Linked DNA regions of Homo sapiens: region 2 is linked to region 1. The links come from fine-mapping of genetic effects on gene expression. A gene starts in region 1. The other region holds a variant in brackets. All regions are shown on one strand. Distances are from middle to middle. Region 1 holds the start of SYNE4 (spectrin repeat containing nuclear envelope family member 4). Region 2 holds the start of FXYD3 (FXYD domain containing ion transport regulator 3).

The links. PIP is the estimated chance that this variant, and not a neighbour inherited with it, causes the effect.
Region 2: its variant is fine-mapped to the expression of SYNE4 in aorta (GTEx, PIP 0.96).

The regions. Positions count from the first base shown.
Region 1 is chr19:36,005,470-36,013,735 of GRCh38, reverse strand. It overlaps SYNE4 (spectrin repeat containing nuclear envelope family member 4), which reads left to right and starts at 4,923. Exons shown (of 8, transcript NM_001039876.3): 1 at 4,923-5,182; 2 at 5,369-5,519; 3 at 6,468-6,611; 4 at 6,792-6,986; 5 at 7,065-7,313. The coding sequence starts at 5,055. ALKBH6 (alkB homolog 6) reads left to right here. Exons shown (of 7, transcript NM_032878.5): 2 at 314-392; 3 at 647-715; 4 at 2,272-2,332; 5 at 2,691-2,842; 6 at 3,053-3,169; 7 at 4,183-4,616. The coding sequence starts at 339. The coding sequence ends at 4,446. RefSeq lists enhancers at 4,670-5,209, 5,210-5,751.
Region 2 is chr19:35,113,646-35,121,967 of GRCh38, reverse strand. FXYD3 (FXYD domain containing ion transport regulator 3) reads right to left here and starts at 6,145. Exons shown (of 9, transcript NM_005971.4): 1 at 6,009-6,145; 2 at 5,609-5,704; 3 at 2,552-2,605; 4 at 858-890; 5 at 723-746. The coding sequence starts at 2,591. LOC124904701 (hepatitis A virus cellular receptor 1-like) reads right to left here. Exons shown (of 3, transcript XR_007067238.1): 3 at 8,299-8,322. The variant G/A (reference allele first, on the strand shown) is at 3,740.

The DNA of each region.
Region 1 (8,266 bases):
TTTTGAGAAAGGCTCCCTGTGTGTGGGGCCAGAGAATGTTCTCTGTGGGAGGATTGAGAAGGCATATGTGTAGTTGGATGGGCCCTTAGTGGACAGAGTAATGGGGGATTATTCTTGGGGCTCATTGTGTCCGGGCATGGAACGTAGGGGCTCTCTGTGTGGCTTGTAAGATGCTGAAGACTCAGATTTTAGAGACCAAGTGCGTTTCAGAAGAGGGCTGAGGTGAGGCCTGGCCTGTGATGGGGTGGAATGCTGCATCATGGTGTTAGGGCGGGAGGCCTAGTGACTTCAGTATGTCCTCCCCTCCCTACAGGATTGGGTGCAAGGAGTTGGTGTTGATGGAGGAGCAGGACGCCAGAGTCCCAGCCCTGGAACCGTTCAGAGTGGAGCAGGTTGTCAGAACTCAGGGTGCAGAGGGTGAAGGAGGCAGGCTGATTCCTGAGTTCTTGGGTTGGGACTGCCCCCTTCCACCAAATTCATTCTTACTGTCAGAGTCCATTCTGGAATGGCACTGGTCCCTTGACTTTAGACCCTGACCTGTCTGAGGACATCCTGAGCCTGTCTCCAGGCATAGGGGTTGCTCTGTGATGATATGTCCTCTGTGTGGGTTGAAGGGCCACACCTTCAGGGGGTCTTTCTATCCTAGGCACCACCTGTAATCTACTATGTCCCTGACTTCATCTCCAAAGAAGAGGAGGAGTATTTGCTTCGACAGGTGACCTCAGTGCCCTACTGGTCTGTTTTCCCACTCTTCCCATATTCCTCCCCAATGTCCATCCTCTGTATGAGAGCCCCCAAGGCTGCAGTGAAGACCCCGACAGAAGGAACAAGGAAGTTACAGAGCTCATACTCCCTCTACTGAGATAGCCCAATCCTGCTAGCTTAGAGAATAGGGGGTTATAAACATAGGCTGAGATAGCCCAGTTCAGATCATTGAGACTGGGGAGTAAAGAATTTTGTATTCAGATTTCTGTGCTGAGATAGCCCAGTAAACTCTTTCCTGTGCTAAAATAGCCCAGCATAGACCCAGAGCACAATAAGGTTACCAAATACAGACCATCTACGCTGAGATGGCCCAGTCTGCATTCTGTTCTTAAGGTTTGGGGAAAGAAGAATTTTCAAAGCTCAGAGTTCCTGCCCTTTGCAGCCCCAGTGCCTAAGTTACAGAGCACAGATCTTCCCTGTGTTGGAGTAACCCACTGATCTTGAGTCCAGGAAAAAATTAGCTACAGAACACAGACTTTTTTGCTGAGATAGCCCATTCCAGACCTTTGCGTTCTTGGCATTGAAAAATCTACATATTATAGAATTCCTGGGCTGAAATAGCCCAGTACAGCTCCATAACCATGAAGGGAATGAGTAGATTATCAACTAGAGCTAGACTTGTTGGACTGAGATAGCCCATTCTAGATCATTAGGATCTTGGCAGTGGAAGATTTTCAAAGTACTTTCTTTGCTGTGCTGAGATAGCCCAGCTTTGCATACTCCCTCCCCCAGGCAATAGGAACAAGTCGGTTGCAGAACTCAAACTGTCCTCAGAGAGCCCAGGAATCAGGAATTTTTGTTTGTTTGTTTTTTGAGACAATCTTGCTCTGTCGCCCAGGCTGGACTGCAGTGGCGTGATCTCGGTTCACTGTAGCCTCCGCCTCCTGGGTTCAACTGATTCTTGTGTTTCAGTCTCCTGAGTAGCTTGGATTGCAGGCGTGTGACACCACACCGCCTCCCAGGTTCAAGCGATTCTCCTGTCTCATCCTCCCAAGTAGCTGGGATTACAGGTGCATGCCACCATGCCCAGCTAAGTTTTGTATTTTTAGTAGAGACGGGGTTTCCCCATGTTGGCCAGGCTGGTCTCGAGCTCCTGACCTCAAGTGATCTGCCCGCCTCGGCCTCCCAAAGTGCTGGGATTACAGGCATGAGCAACCAGGTTTGGCACGGAATCAGGAAATTAGAATGCAGACTATTTGCTGGGCTGAAAGAGCCCTGTCCAGCCCCAGAACTCTGAGTAGATTGTGAGACCCACAACTCTCAGACCACGGTTGTGCAGCCCTGATTCCTAAATCCTGGTAGACACAGGTGGGCTTTGGGGCCAAAGGCGTTCCCAGGAAAAAAGGCAAACCACAAAATCCTAGGAACCCACCGCCCCAGGGAATGGTCCCACAGACACAGATGACCCATTTCCATCCCGGAGGTAAAGGCCCCTATGTTGGTCTAGGTGGGAGGATCATAGAGGGGTGATCCTGAGAAAGGAGTGACCCCCTTCCCACCTCTTAGGTTTTTAATGCCCCAAAGCCAAAGTGGACCCAGCTCTCTGGGAGAAAGTTACAGAACTGGGGTAAGTATCCCTGGCTGGGGGCAGGAGTGATTCTGGGATGTAGGCTGGGGCAGGGGACTCAGGTCCAATAGACTTAAGACATCAGAGGGTCCCTGACAGCTCAAGGGGCCCCAAGAGCCAGGAGGATTCTGAAGGGGTCAGTGGAGGTCCTGAGGGATTAGGGATTTCCTGATGAGTTGGGAGTATCTGAAAGGGACCTGTGGTCTGGAGAAGTGAGGAAACCTCTGAAGGACCCAGTGGCTATCTCCAAACGGTCAGGGGTCCCTGAGAGGATCAGGGTGCTTCCAGCCACTGTGGAATCCCTAATGGGGGATCTATTGCTATAGGGGGGCCCTCAGGACCCCATTGCCTTCCCCAGGTGGGCTTCCTCATCCCCGAGGGATGGTTCCTGAGCGGCTGCCCCCATGGCTCCAGCGCTACGTGGACAAAGTGTCAAACCTCAGCCTCTTTGGAGGCCTCCCAGCTAACCATGTCCTCGTGAACCAGTATCTGCCTGGGGAGGGCATCATGGTAACCACACACCCTCGGCCCGTGTCCCCCCACTCAGACTTCTGAGCTGTGCTGGGGCAGGGGACTCTGTACCCACCCTCACTCATTAGGCAGCCACATCTCCCAAACAGGCATTCACCTCCCTGTCCCTGGCTTGGGAAGCCCCCCTTTGACCCAGAGGGTGGGGGTTGTGGACTCCTGCCCTGCCCAGCCCTGGTGCCCACTCCCTAGCCCCACGAGGACGGACCACTGTACTACCCGACTGTCAGCACCATCAGCCTGGGCTCCCACACCGTGCTGGACTTCTACGAGCCGCGGCGGCCAGAGGACGATGACCCTACAGAACAGGTGGGCCCCCAGACACTGCCCCAGCTGCTTGTAGGCACTTCAACCTCGCACATCCTCCAAGATGACCTGGTCCCACATGCCTTCGGGGTACTCCTGGCACTCTCCCAGATACCTTCCCTTGTCCCCTCATGGGGTGTACCCACTTCCTCCCAGACACCCAACCCATCTGCTTACAGGGTGTCTGTCCCACATGCCATGATTTTCACAGGCTCCCCGATGCCCCAACCTGCTGAATGGATACCCCTGACTCCCCAGCAGACACTGATATCCTTAGATACCCCACCGCCATTAACTCGGGGGGCCTCACCTCCTCCCAGATGCTCTATCTGCCCCTGCTCAGGGTGCCCCAGACGTCCTGCTACTCCAGGAATGTGATTTGGGGTGCAGGACACCCCCAGATTCTCCTTGACCCCTTGACACAATTTCTCTGAGTGATGCATTTCTAGCACCCCAGTGTTCACAGAAACGCCCCTGAACACGCCGACCCACTCCTTGAGGCTTGCCCTCGAGCCCTGCATGCTCCTGGATGCTCTGACACTCCCTCAGCTGTGCGGTTGTCCTCTAATGTCCTGATGTCCTTGGGAACCCCCACTGCCTCTAACCTCTGCCTCACTCTCTCCTCACCTGGTCCTGGCTTCAGCCATGCTCTCTCAGCCCAGCTCTGCCTGTATTTCCTGGGGACTGCCTATTCCTGGGTCCCAGCCCCAGCCTCAGCCCCTTTGAGATCCCAGCTGCAGCTCCCACCGGCCGCTGACCCTTTGACGCCCCCATCTGCCACCTAGATCCTGCCCCCTCCCGAGGGACGGCAGAGCCCTCGCCCTCCCTTTCCAGCAGCCCCAGCCCAGGCCCCAGCAATTTTCACTCCTGAACCACCAAAGCCTCCATCATTGTGAGCACACTTGCTCTTCAGCTTTTGCCCCTGGGGACTAGCTGATCCCCGGAGGCTACCGACCTCTCGCCCACCCCCACCCCCCGACTTCTTGAGCCCTGCTGACCCTCAACCCGCCCTGCAGCCTCGGCCTCCGCCCCGGCCCACCACCTCGCTACTGCTGGAACCGCGCAGCCTGCTGGTGCTCCGCGGCCCCGCCTACACGCGTCTTCTCCACGGCATCGCCGCCGCCCGCGTAGACGCGCTGGACGCCGCCTCCTCGCCGCCCAATGCGGCAGCCTGCCCGTCGGCGCGGCCGGGAGCCTGCCTGGTGCGCGGCACCCGGGTCTCGCTGACCATCCGCCGCGTGCCCCGCGTGCTGCGCGCCGGCCTCCTGCTGGGCAAGTGACCGCCAGGGCCGGGACCCCTCGGATTCCCAGGTTCCTGCCCCTTTGGGGCTGCTGTGACTCCGCGACCTAGGAACCGTGGGCAAAGGGGGCTCCCCTGGGTTATTTATTTTCCCAATAATTTTGTGTGAGCTACAGAAGACCCCATACCAAATAAACAAAAAAATCTTTCCTTGGTTTTATATTTTTATTTTTTAGGGGCCAGATGCTTGGTTTCCTGAGGGGAGCGGCATCTAGGGTCTTAAATGAATGGGGTAGGCCCTGGAGGTCCGATTTCTGGGTTCCCAGTGGGGCAGAATCCAGGGCTCTTGAGGAGGTGGCGCAGGGGTTCTATCTGGAACCCTCTTGGATGGCGTGGAGTGATGCTGGGAGATTTAGCTACTGGCCTGCTAGGGAGGAAGGAGTTAAGTGACTCTTCTGTCACCTGAGCTGGGCATCAAATGGCCGGGTCCAGGTTCCTCTTGGAAGGGGCGGAGCCAGACCTGTCCTGGGCCTCTCCTGCAGCCTCAGGCCCGGGTGACTCCAGCGGAGGAGCTCTGGGACACCCTTGTCTAGGGAAGAGGTCTTACTGGCTGCCCTCACCTGACTTTGTGTCCCCAGGCCCCCAGCCATGGCCCTGTCCCTGCCTCTGGGCCCTAGACTTGGCTCAGAGCCCCTCAACCACCCACCGGGAGCACCTAGAGAGGCGGACATTGTTGGATGCACCGTCTGCCCCGCGTCCGGAGAGGAGAGCACGAGGTGGGGGCCGGGGCTTTGGAAGCTTGTTCCCAAAAGGGTAGGCGTGGTGGCAGGGGCCATGTGAGGGTAGGAGGTGCCATGGCTGTGATCGCCTGGGGACATAGGAGAGGCCACCAGGGTTGGGGTGACGGTAGGCTGAAAAGTGAGGTGTCGAGACTCACCCAGTCACCGCCCCCTGCCTCCTAGCCCAGAGCAGGCCCAGACCCTGGGACAGGACTCCTTGGGCCCTCCTGAGCACTTCCAGGGTGGGCCAAGGGGCAATGAGCCTGCCGCTCACCCCCCGAGATGGTCAACACCCTCTTCCTACGAGGACCCAGCTGGGGGCAAACACTGTGAGGTGAGCTGAGGTGACCCAGACCCCTTGTGCCAGCCCCACCTCCTCTCTGTCCCCTGGAGTCTGGCCTCCATACTGAGGACCGGGTGATGATTCTGGAAAGGTGTTGGGTGTCTGTAGGGGGAGGGACCTTCTGGAAAAGTGTTTCAATATCTGACCAACTGGGGAGACGTATTTCTTTCTTTCTTTTTTTTTTTGAGATGGAGTCTCTCTGTCACCTAGGCTGGAATGCAGTGGTGAGATCTCTGCTCACTGCAACCTCCGCCTCCCAGGTCCCAGTGATTCTCCTGCCTCAGCCACCCGAGTAGCTGGGATTACAGGCACATGCCACCATACCTGGCTAATTTTTTGTATTTTTAGTAGAGATGGGTTTTCGACTTGTTGGCCAGGCTAGTCTCGAACTCCCGACCTCAGGTGATCCACCCACCTCAGCCTCCCGAAGTGCTGGGATTACAGGCGTGCGTCACCGTGTCCAGCCATATTTCTTTTTTATTAAAAAAAAAAAAGTAGAGATGATGTCTCACCATGTTGCCCAGGCTGGTCTTGAACTCCTGGGCTCAAGTGATCCTCGGGCCTCGGCCTCCCAAAGTGCTGGGATTACAGATGTGAACCACTGCGCCCGGCTGAGAAGCATTTCATCATTGCTCCTGGTGTAGCCCCATTCTTCTTGGGGGGTACCCAGCCCCGCTCCCTGTCCAGACCCCCCAGGCCTCACACATCCAAGTTTCCAGGAGCTTTGAAAACCTGGAGACCTTGAACTAGATATCTGTCCTCAGGCCTGGCTCCACTGGGAAGGCCCCCCCAGTGGGAGCCATCCTGGTGCAGACAGACCCGGAGATGGACTGTGCCACAGAGAAGTTTCCAGAAGCTTACAGAAGAGGGGTGGGGATGGGAGCAGGGGTGATATCTTGATTGGCCCACTGGCCCTGACCTGGCTCCTGTGTTCCCCAGCACCCCATTTCTGGCCTGGAGGTACTAGAGGCTGAGCAGAACAGCCTGCACCTGTGCCTGCTGGGGCTGGGCCGCCGGCTGCAGGACCTGGAGCAAGGCCTGGGGCACTGGGCATTGGCCCAGAGTGGGATGGTGCAGCTGCAGGTAGGCAGGAGAGGCCAGGATGTGGGGGTGGGCACGGCCCCAGCAGTGGGTGCCAGCTTTCCGGGATGGGAAATGGGTTGAGTGCATGTTCCAGGCCTTTGGATAGGAAATGGGGGAGGGGGGTAACTCCAGGTTTTGGGTCCCTGGTGTGTGCGTGGGGTGATGTCCATATGTCCCCAGGCCCTCCAGGTGGACCTACGAGGGGCAGCTGAGCGTGTGGAGGCGCTGCTAGCGTTTGGTGAGGGGCTGGCACAGCGGAGTGAGCCCAGGGCCTGGGCAGCCCTGGAGCAGATCCTGCGGGCCCTGGGAGCTTACCGAGACTCCATCTTCCGGCGGCTCTGGCAGCTGCAGGCCCAGCTGGTCAGCTACAGCCTGGTAGGGCCCATCTTGATACCCCCCACCCAACCCAGGCCCCAACCTCATAGCCTCCATGACCTCTGTCCTTTGACCCAGGTGTTCGAGGAGGCCAACACGCTGGACCAGGACTTGGAGGTCGAGGGAGACTCGGACTGGCCAGGACCTGGTGGGGTCTGGGGGCCCTGGGCACCCAGTAGCCTCCCCACTTCCACAGAGTTGGAGTGGGATCCGGCGGGGGACATTGGGGGCCTTGGGCCCTTGGGACAAAAGACAGCCCGGACACTAGGAGTGCCCTGTGAGCTGTGTGGCCAGAGGGGGCCCCAGGGCAGGGGACAAGGCCTTGAGGTGAGAGCAGACCCCCTTGAGGGACCTTCTGCCAGGCACCCTGGGGACATCTCTGCGCACCTTCTAGCAAGATCCTGCCCTTCCAAGGAGGTGTCAGTGGCTCTGTCTCCCCCTCTATCTCTGTCTCTCGGTGTCTCCTTCTATCTCACTGTTTCTCTCTCTCGTCTGTCTCTGTCTACATCCTCAAGCCCCATCTCAAATTCACTCCTATCCTGAGGCCCCCAGATGATGCCCCACTCACCTCCTGACTGTCCCAGTCTCTCCTGAAGTGCCACCTCTTCAGGGAGGCCTGTCGTGACCTCCAAACATGAGCACTCCTATCTTCTTACTTTATTTCCTAACAGCACTCACCACAGCTTGACTTTGTACATTTACTTATTTTTAAAAATTTTTATTTATTTTTTGAGATGGAGTCTCACTCTGTCACCCAGGCTGGAGTGTAGTGGTGCAATCCTGGCTCACTGCAAACTCTGCCTCCCAGGTTCAAGAGATTCTCCTACCTCGGCCTCCCGAGTAGCTGGGATTACAGGTGTGCACCACCATTCCTGGCTAATTTTTGTATTTTTAGTAGAGATGGGGTTTCATCATGTTGGCCAGGCTAGTCTCGAACGCCTGACCTCAGGTGATCCGCCTGCCTTGGCCTCCCAAAGTGCTGGGATTACAGGCATAAGCCACTGTACCAGGCCTCATTTACTTATTAATTTATGGTCTCTCTCCTGTCAAATATAAGCTCCACGGAGGCCAGGAATTTGCCTATTTCCATCCCCACTGTGTCCTCAGCTCCTAGAACAGTTCCTGGCTTGTAACAGAAACTCATTACACATTTATTGAATGAATGAATAAATAATTCTCTCCTCTCTTGGTTTCTTTGGCTCTGCCTTTGTCTGTCCTGTGAGATCTCTCTGCTCCCCCAGAATCTCATCTCTATGACATCCCTATCCTGGCCCTCCCCC
Region 2 (8,322 bases), 890 kb after region 1:
TCCCAGCTATTCAGGAGGCTGAGGCAGGAGGATCGCTTGAGACCAGGAGTTTGAGGCTGCAGTGAGCTATGATTACACCACAGCACTCCAGCTTGGGCAACAGTGTGAGACGCTGTCTCTAAAACAAAAAAAAAGTCAGATGGCAGCTCTTTTAGAGGGAGTTGTCAGGGAAGGCCTCTCAGGGGGCTGCATTTGAGCAGAGGGAAGGGAGGGAGCCATGTGGTTCTGTGGAAGGAAGTGTTCCAGGCAGAGGAACCAGCAGGTGCAGAGGTCTGAGGCTGGCAGTATGTCTGCTGTGTCTGAGAGGCTTGGAGCAGAAGGAATGAGGAGCGTGGAGAGGTGAGGGCAGAGCGGGGAGTAGGGAGCAGGTCATTGGAACCTGGAGGCCAGATGAGGGTTTTGATCCAATAGCTCACCACCTCCAGGAAGTTTTCTCAAGTCAACACTTCTCCCAGCAGTTGATCTGAACCAACCAATGGCTTCTTGCAAACTGTCCTCACCTCCTGCGTGTGTCTATCTTGCTGGAATAGAACCTTCCCAAAGGCCAGGTTGCTGCCTCTAGTTCCTTTAATCCACTGTGTGGCATATTCAGTAACCCCATCCTAGTCCCTTCGTATCTTTGTCCTGTGATGCTCACGTCAGGCCCCAACCCTGTATGGGAACCCTTGGCACCAAGCAGTATGTGGGGTTGTGGGGAGGGGAAAGGGGGCACGGGCTCTCACCATAGTAGAAAGGACTGTTTTTATCTGCAAGGAAAGAAAAAAGATCATGAATCCAGGATTACAGCCAGGATGCAGGCCTTCCCCACCCAGGGGAGAATTTGGGGGTGTGACGGGTGAGAGTCCAGTCTGACTCACCTTCTAGGTCATTGGCGTCCAGGACAGGAAAGCCTAGTGGGAGAAGAGGGGAAGGAGGGGAGATGGTGATGCCGGCCTCAGCCAAGCCTTTGGGCAGGGCCTGGGGAGTTTCAGGGGCCTTGGGAAAGGGTCTCCTGCGGGACAGGGGTCCTGTCACTGAGCAGCCACCTCATCCCCTCATATCCCAACGAGGAAATGTGGACTCGCCCACTCAGCCCCACACCTCCGAGTCACGCCAGCATTCTGCCACCTGAAATGGGTTCTAATCTAGGAGGTTTTTAGCCACTATTTGGTCTCATGTTTCCAGACACGTGGTTAATCCATGCCTCCTGCAGCAGCGGGGGACTTTTCTGGTCAAGACGACAGATGGTTTCAGTTCCCAGATTCCTGTTTCCCCAAGTCCAATCATGCTCAAAGCCCATCCTCCCGCTTCCACCATGTCCACACCCACCTGGTCTGGTGTTTGCACATCATTGAAAATGACTCACTATTATACACTTAAATAGACTTTATTGAAAATGTAATTTTAGATCACTACCCTGCAGGGAATACTGGTCTTGCCCTATGTAATGGACAAAAAGTGTGCCTGTAATCCCAGAGCTTTGGGAGGCTGACGTGGAAGGATCTCTTGAGCCTGGGAGGTCAAGGCTGCAGTGAAAAAGTAAAAAGCGGGCTGGGCACAGTGGCTTAGGCCTGTAATCCCAAAACTTTGGAAGGCCGAGGCAGGAGGATCACTTGAGGTCAGGAGTTCGAGACCAGCCTGGCCAATATGGTGAAACCTTGTCTCTTCTAAAAATACAAAAGTTAGCCAGGCATGGCAGCACACGCCTGTAATGCCAGCTACTTGGGAGGCTGAGGCAGGAGAGTCGCTTGAACCTGGGAGGTGGAGGTTGCAGTGAGCCGAGATCATGCCACTGCACTCCAGCCTGGGCAACAGAGCGAGACTCTGTCTCCGAAAAAAAAAAAAGAAAAGAAAAAAGGGAAAAGTGTTTGGAAGTTAAAGATGCAGTCGCACTGAGCTGAGCCTTCTACTTGAAGTTTTTAGAGAACTGGCAGGGCAGTTATCTTCTTTCAGTGCTTTGAAGGTGTCATTTCATCATCTTCTCTAGCTTCCGTTATTTCTGTTTAATAGTCAATCAAGGCCAGTGCAGTGTGGCTCATGCCTGTAATCCCAGCACTTTGGAAGGCTGAGGTGGGAGGATCAAACTCAGCCAGGAGTTTGAGACCAGCTTGGGCAACACAGTGAGACCTCGTCTCTGCAAAAAATCAAAAATGCACTGGGCATGGTGGCGTGTGCCTGGCATTCTAGCTGTGTAGGAGGCTAAGAGAGTAGGATCGCTTGACCCCAGGAGTTCAAGGCTGTAGTGAACTGTGATTGCGCCATTGCACTCCAGCCTGAGCAACAGAGACTCCCTTTCAAAAACAAAAACAAAAACAAAAACAAAAACAAAAAAAGCCAAAAAAAAAGAAGAGATCGAGAGAATGGGGAAGACGGTGACTTTCCAGCTGTGTGAGCCAGCTCTTCTCGTGTATCCCCGGCTATCACTAGTCTGACTTTTCTTACCCTCAGGGAGATGCTGTTCTAACATTTACCACCTTCCCGGGGAGGTAGAAAAGCACAGGAGAGAGACAGAGGTTGGATCCCCGCATCCAGGGGATCCAGAGGAAAAGGCAGACGGGGGATGGGTACTCACCTGCCAGGAACACAAGCAGGCCCAGGGTCACCTTCTGCATGTCAGAGCGCTGGCCTAGAGGGGTGGCGGGAGGTCTGGCCTTAGCAGAGCCACCGGGAGGCTGGCCCTGTGCCTGTGGCTCCCCAACCCTCCTCCCCTGCTCCCCAGGCAGGGTGCGCAGCTCACCCGGGACAGGAAGGCTGGCATCTCGCTGGGCTGAGAGATAAGCCGCAGCTGCACCGTGGAGTGGGGACTGGGTGAAACTCGGGCCTGAGGCGGGAGGAGCCATAATAACTCACTGGACATGGACTTCAGGCTTTCTGGGAATCGCCCCGCAACCAAACAAGGGCGCCACTGCCCGCTGTTGTCCTCACTGGACAGATGGGGAGACTGAGGCTCTGAGAGGTGAAACTAGGTGCTCTAGCCAGGAAGTAGGATTTAAGCCAGGCCTGGCTCCCCAGCAGCTGCTCCTAACTAGGGACTGTCAGGGCCTTGGGGTGTTTGGGGAAGCGGGGCATTGGGAGCCAGGCGGCAGGAGGCCCGCTTCCCAGGAGTGTCTCCGTAGACCGCTCAGAGCCTGCCCGGCCCTGCCAGGACATTGCAGACTTCAGGCTGAGGACTGAGCAGGTTCTTCAAGCTGCTTGGGGGTGGGGTGGTGTGTGGAGGAATTGACGTGAGGCTGGGACTGGGGGTAGAGGGGGACTCTACCTCCTGGCTGCAGCCCTAGCTCCATCTCTGTTCCCCCGAACCTCCTGCCCCTCATCCCACACCCATGCCCTTCCCGGTCCCAGCCCTGGCTCTGCCTAGCCGGGGTCCCCAGCCCAGCCCCTGACCCTACCCTAGGCCCAGCAGAGTTCCTGGTGACAGCAAACACTTTCTCTTTCCCAGGTAGACCTGCTCAGCATAAGGAACTCGTTTCTCTCTCCTTCCTGACCTGGCATCAGTCCTGCCCTCTCACCAGCCTGCAAGGCTGCACCAAGCCCTGGCCTCCGAGCATGCCCTCCCCTGCCCTGTCCCTGCCCTGTCCCTGCCCAAATGCTGAGTGCATAGTTATCATAATTGTTTTTTTTTTTTTTTTTTTTGAGGCGGAGTTTCACTCTGTCACCCAGGCTGGAGTGCAATGGCATAATCTCAGCTCACTGCAACCTCTGCCTCCTGGGTTCAAGTGATTCTCCTGCCTCAGCCTCCTGAGTAGCTGAGACTACAGGC[G/A]TGTGCCACCAGTCTCGGCTAATTTTTGCATTTTTGGTAGAGCCAGGGTTTCACTGTGTTGGCCAGGCTGGTCTCCAACTCCTGACCTCAGGTGATCCACCCACCCCGGCCTCCCTCAGTGCTGGGATTACAGGTGTGAGCCACCACGCCTGGCCTAGTTATAATTTTGATAGCGAGAGCTGGCACTTCCTCCACCTTGCCCTGGAGTGCACACTGACCTTGCCGTGTTCTCACTCACTTAACCCCCCAGCAATCCCCGACGTCGTCCACTATGTCCTCATTTCACGAACAGCAAAAATGCTGAGAGAGGGTGGTGCCCGCAACCAACGGTGCGGGTGGTCCTTGCAGGTTGGCACAGACTCCTCCCTCTGCCTGGCACCCCAGGGCCTGGGAATCCTCTCAGCTTCCCAGTTAATTCCACATGCTGAACTCACAATTTTAGTTGGAGCATCCATTTCTTTTCCTTTTTTTGCGGGAAGAAAGCCTGAGGCTTTGGGGAGCATTACTGAGGCCCAGGAAGTGTTTAGGATCCCCAAAAGTGTTGGGGGTTGGGGGAGCTGGCGTGGGTGGGTGGGCAGGATGGCATGTTGGATAGGGGCACAGGTTGTAGGTGGACTGCCTGTGGTCTGAAGCTGTCACCCATGACCATACGAGTCCTGGTAATAACAGCAGATGCTTATTGAGTGTCTACCCCATGGGGGCATTTTCTCAGCTTCCCACTTACTCGCTCAATCTCTGCAGCTTAATGCAGGGGGCACTATTATTAGCCCACATTGCAGTTGTAATCCTGTAACCCCTGCAAATTCATCTTAAAGCCCTATGCTCTGTCGCCATGGCTGTTGAGTCTCACCTCTTAAGCCTCTTTCCAGGGGCTCCTCCAAGCCACCTCTGGCCTGCAAGGCCCCACTATACCCCCTTCCCATGATGTCATCCAGCCAAGACTGACAGATGGTATCCTCCTCGCCCCAGCCTCTGCAAAACAACGTCCAGTCCCATGCTTCCGGAGGCTGCAGGGAGCCGGGAGCTGGGTCTGCCCTCACGTTCCCCATTCAGGCTGTTGTCTGAAGAGGCTGTGGGCTGCTCCCGAACTGATGTGGTTGGTGAGCAGGTTAGAGAGGAAGGCAGCCCTGCAGCTGATGCTCTGTCTACCTGCTCTCATCCTTCCTGGCCATGAGGTCCCAAGGCCGGCCTGAGGACTGTTTCCCCCACCTGCCCTCTGCTATCCCCTCTATTCCTCCATACCATGGGAGAATGGTCTCATGTTCAGGGGTGGGTAGAAAGATCCTGCCCGCTGTGTGCTCCTGAAATCTCCCAAGCAACTCCCCATTTAAAGCTTCCCCCAGCAGCTCCATCCTTTTTTCCTGGAGGTCTCCAGAATCCAGATCCCTCAATGTCTGGACACCCCGAGTCCACCCAGCACTCCTTATCCACCCAGATCCCTCAATGTCTGGACACCCCGAGTCCACCCAGCATTCCTCATCCACCCAGATGTCCCCAGTCCATCTACGCACCCCTGGTCCACTTAGATACCCCTACCTACCCAGGCACCCCCTCTCCTCCACCCAGCTATCCCCAACCCAGATATCCCTAATCCATGCAGACACTAGTCTTTCAGACACCCCAACCACACTTATCAGTCCTGCCCTCACCTCAGCTGGTTCAACAAGTCCCTGAGAGGAGAATGGTGGGGAAAGGGACATTAGGGGAAGGGACTTCCGTTTATCTCCTGGCTCCAGAAAAGCATTTCACAAGATTTTAGGCGCTTTAACATAAAAGCTTCTATGGGGCAGGGTCAGGGGGCAGGTAGATACTTCCTAATTTAGGGGCAGAGACAAGGAGGGCTTGGAGGAAGGGGCCCCAGCTGCTCACCTGTGTGGTTCACCAGGCTGAGCAGAGGTTCCGGGAGAAATCGGGCTGCCAGGCGGAGTCCTGCGTTTATCCGAAGCTGCCACGCCCTAAGCAAACCTGGGCAGGTAGAAAACAAGTCAGATGCCCTGAGGCCCAGGGGCTCCATTCCTGCTCTTAAAGAGACAGCTTCACCCCCTCCCCAGCCATGGGCGGCAGGTTGCTCCCTGGGGTCACCAGGACCACAGCAGCCTCAGGTGAGACGGAGAATTGGATGGGCTGGAACTCGGCCCCTGGAATTAAGGGAGGAGCTTTCTCCAATCTCCTGTGCCCAGGAGAGGACCTTGAATGGGGAAGGTTCTGGGGTCTTTAAACGGCAGAGCCTCCAGGGCCATGCAGTGAGATGATGCGTTGGTGTTCCGACCTCACTTCTTTTCCTTAGATGATGTGTTTTGCCTGGTGGAAGGATTGCTGGCAGTTGTGGAGAACTTAAAGTCCCCTTCCAGGCCACATCTTGCCGCTGGTACAATTTCAGGATCAGCAGAAGATGCTAGCGTGACCAAAGTCAGGAGATGGGGCAGGGGTGGATATGAGGGAGCGGCTGGAACAGCAGGGAGGGGTCAGGGTGGGGACTCTGGGACCTTAGTCCTGGTCATAACCTGCTCCCTGCCCTGGGGAGAATGAGAACTGTCTGCCAGGCACCAGGCTGCAGTTTCCTAGCCAGGCTCTTTCCGTGGGTGCTGGGAGCCAGACGCCTGGGTCTACAGAGTGGGTGCTGGTGGGGGCGGCTGCCTCCTAGTCCACATAAGGCCCCCAGCACTGTACAAGCCTCCCTCCCCCTTTCCTCCCCTGTCTCCTGCTCCTCCTCCTCCAGGCATTCCTTCCGGATGGGGTCTGTGCAGGCTCCCCCATGGTCCCAGTTGGGGGTGCCCCCTCCCCTCAATTCCGCCTTCTTAGACAGAGGGACTTTTGTCTGGGGGCTGGATGGAGAACAAGGATCCTTTGAGCGGTTGGCGGAGGATTGGGGTCACGGGGAGGGGTAGGGCCAGGAAAGGGGTAGCTCTGCCCTGGACACCAGCTGGACTCCAGGCGACCCCAACACCACCGTGGGGGCGGGGAGGAGGGCTGCAGGGCCTGGCCAGGGAGAAGCAGCTGCTGGGAGTGTGGAGCACAGGACAGGAAAAGGGGGTTTGGGTCAAGGCTCTTCCGGAAACTGGCCTGCTGGGGGCAGAGAGAAGGACCCCCCACTTGTCATCGCTGAGGGATCGGGGAGGGCAATGTTCGCCCAGCGCTACACCCCTTCTCTATGTGGTTCCCTGGGGCAAGTTGTCAAGCCCAGGTCCTAGACAAGGGTAAGGCTCCCTCCTACCACTCTTAAGGCGGGGCCAGTTCCCATAAGGAAGCCGGGCGGGGGGACCTCGGGGTAGGGCTCTAAGCAACAGGTCCAGGAGGAGATAGAAACAGGAAGGGGAGGCCCGGAGGCCAACTCAGTATAGCTAAGGGGGGTCTTTGTGTCTGGGCGGATAGCGTCTCTTCCCTAGACCCTTGAAGCTTGTGTCTGGGACGACCCCTTGGTGGTCTTGGGAGTGGAATGGTGTCTCCCTCTGCTGGGAAGCCTGGGAACTGCAGGCATCCGAGAGCGAGTAGGGGCGTGTACAGGGTGGCTGGGAAGGGCGGGGGGTGCTCTGCCCTTCACCGGAACGGGGTGAACTGGAGAACTGTTGTCTAAAAATCTTGGAGGAACACCCCTGCCCGTGGTTAGATACAGAAGTATTTCCCAGACAGCTTGCTAAGGGGAAAAAAAACAAGGTATTGGGAAACCGTGCAGTGTGCTACCATTTGTGAGCGGTAAAATAATGCATATGTATATACTTGTAATGAATAAAATATTTTTGGAGATTGGCATCCATACCCATGGCTTCTGGAGAGGGAAACTGGGAGGCTGGAGGGTGGGGTGGAAGTGAGACTCACTCATTATCACGTGCCCTCTTATATTTTTTGAATTTTGCATCTTGAAAATGTACTACCTTAAAGGGGTTTAATTTAAAAAATTTGGTTCAGATTTAAAAAAAAATTTGCAGGTCAAAATTTCAACCTAAGGGCTGGTTTCAACCTGGGGGACCAGCAATTAGAGACTTCTGACAACCTCTGAATGTTCTGTAGTTTTAAACACCATGATCTTACATTCTGAGGTACAGACGTTTACGGTTTTTACCCAATCCAGGTCAACCATAAATTCTTCCTAGGCTGGACGTGAACATGCTGCGTCCAAGTGTGTGTTGGGCTGGCGCTGGGGCTTGGGTTTATGGTCAGAAGGACTCTGAGACCCTAGTGTGATGAGCACACTGAGTCTTAGGAAGGGCTGTGAGGAGTAGAGTTTGTGCAGTCACTTGCACCCTATTGGGGATTAGGTCTCATTTGGAGTGAGTCTTCTGGGCCAATCTGACTTCAGTTATGTTTTAAATGCATGTAGGTAATATGTTTTATTAATATATTGTATATAATATACATAATAAACATATTTGAAAAAGTTTCTCTCGTTTTGCTTTTGGAATCATTTGGGCCCAAAGAACCTGTTAAGGCTGTGAGTGGCTGTGATTTCTCCATATCCTGGGAATTCTTGCAAAATGAAAAAAACCAAACCTACAGATAGTTTCTGACATCATAAGTTTTTCAGGAACGCTGAATTAAAGCACAGAATCAAAGCCAGAGCATGTTATACCATCCCTGATTCAAAC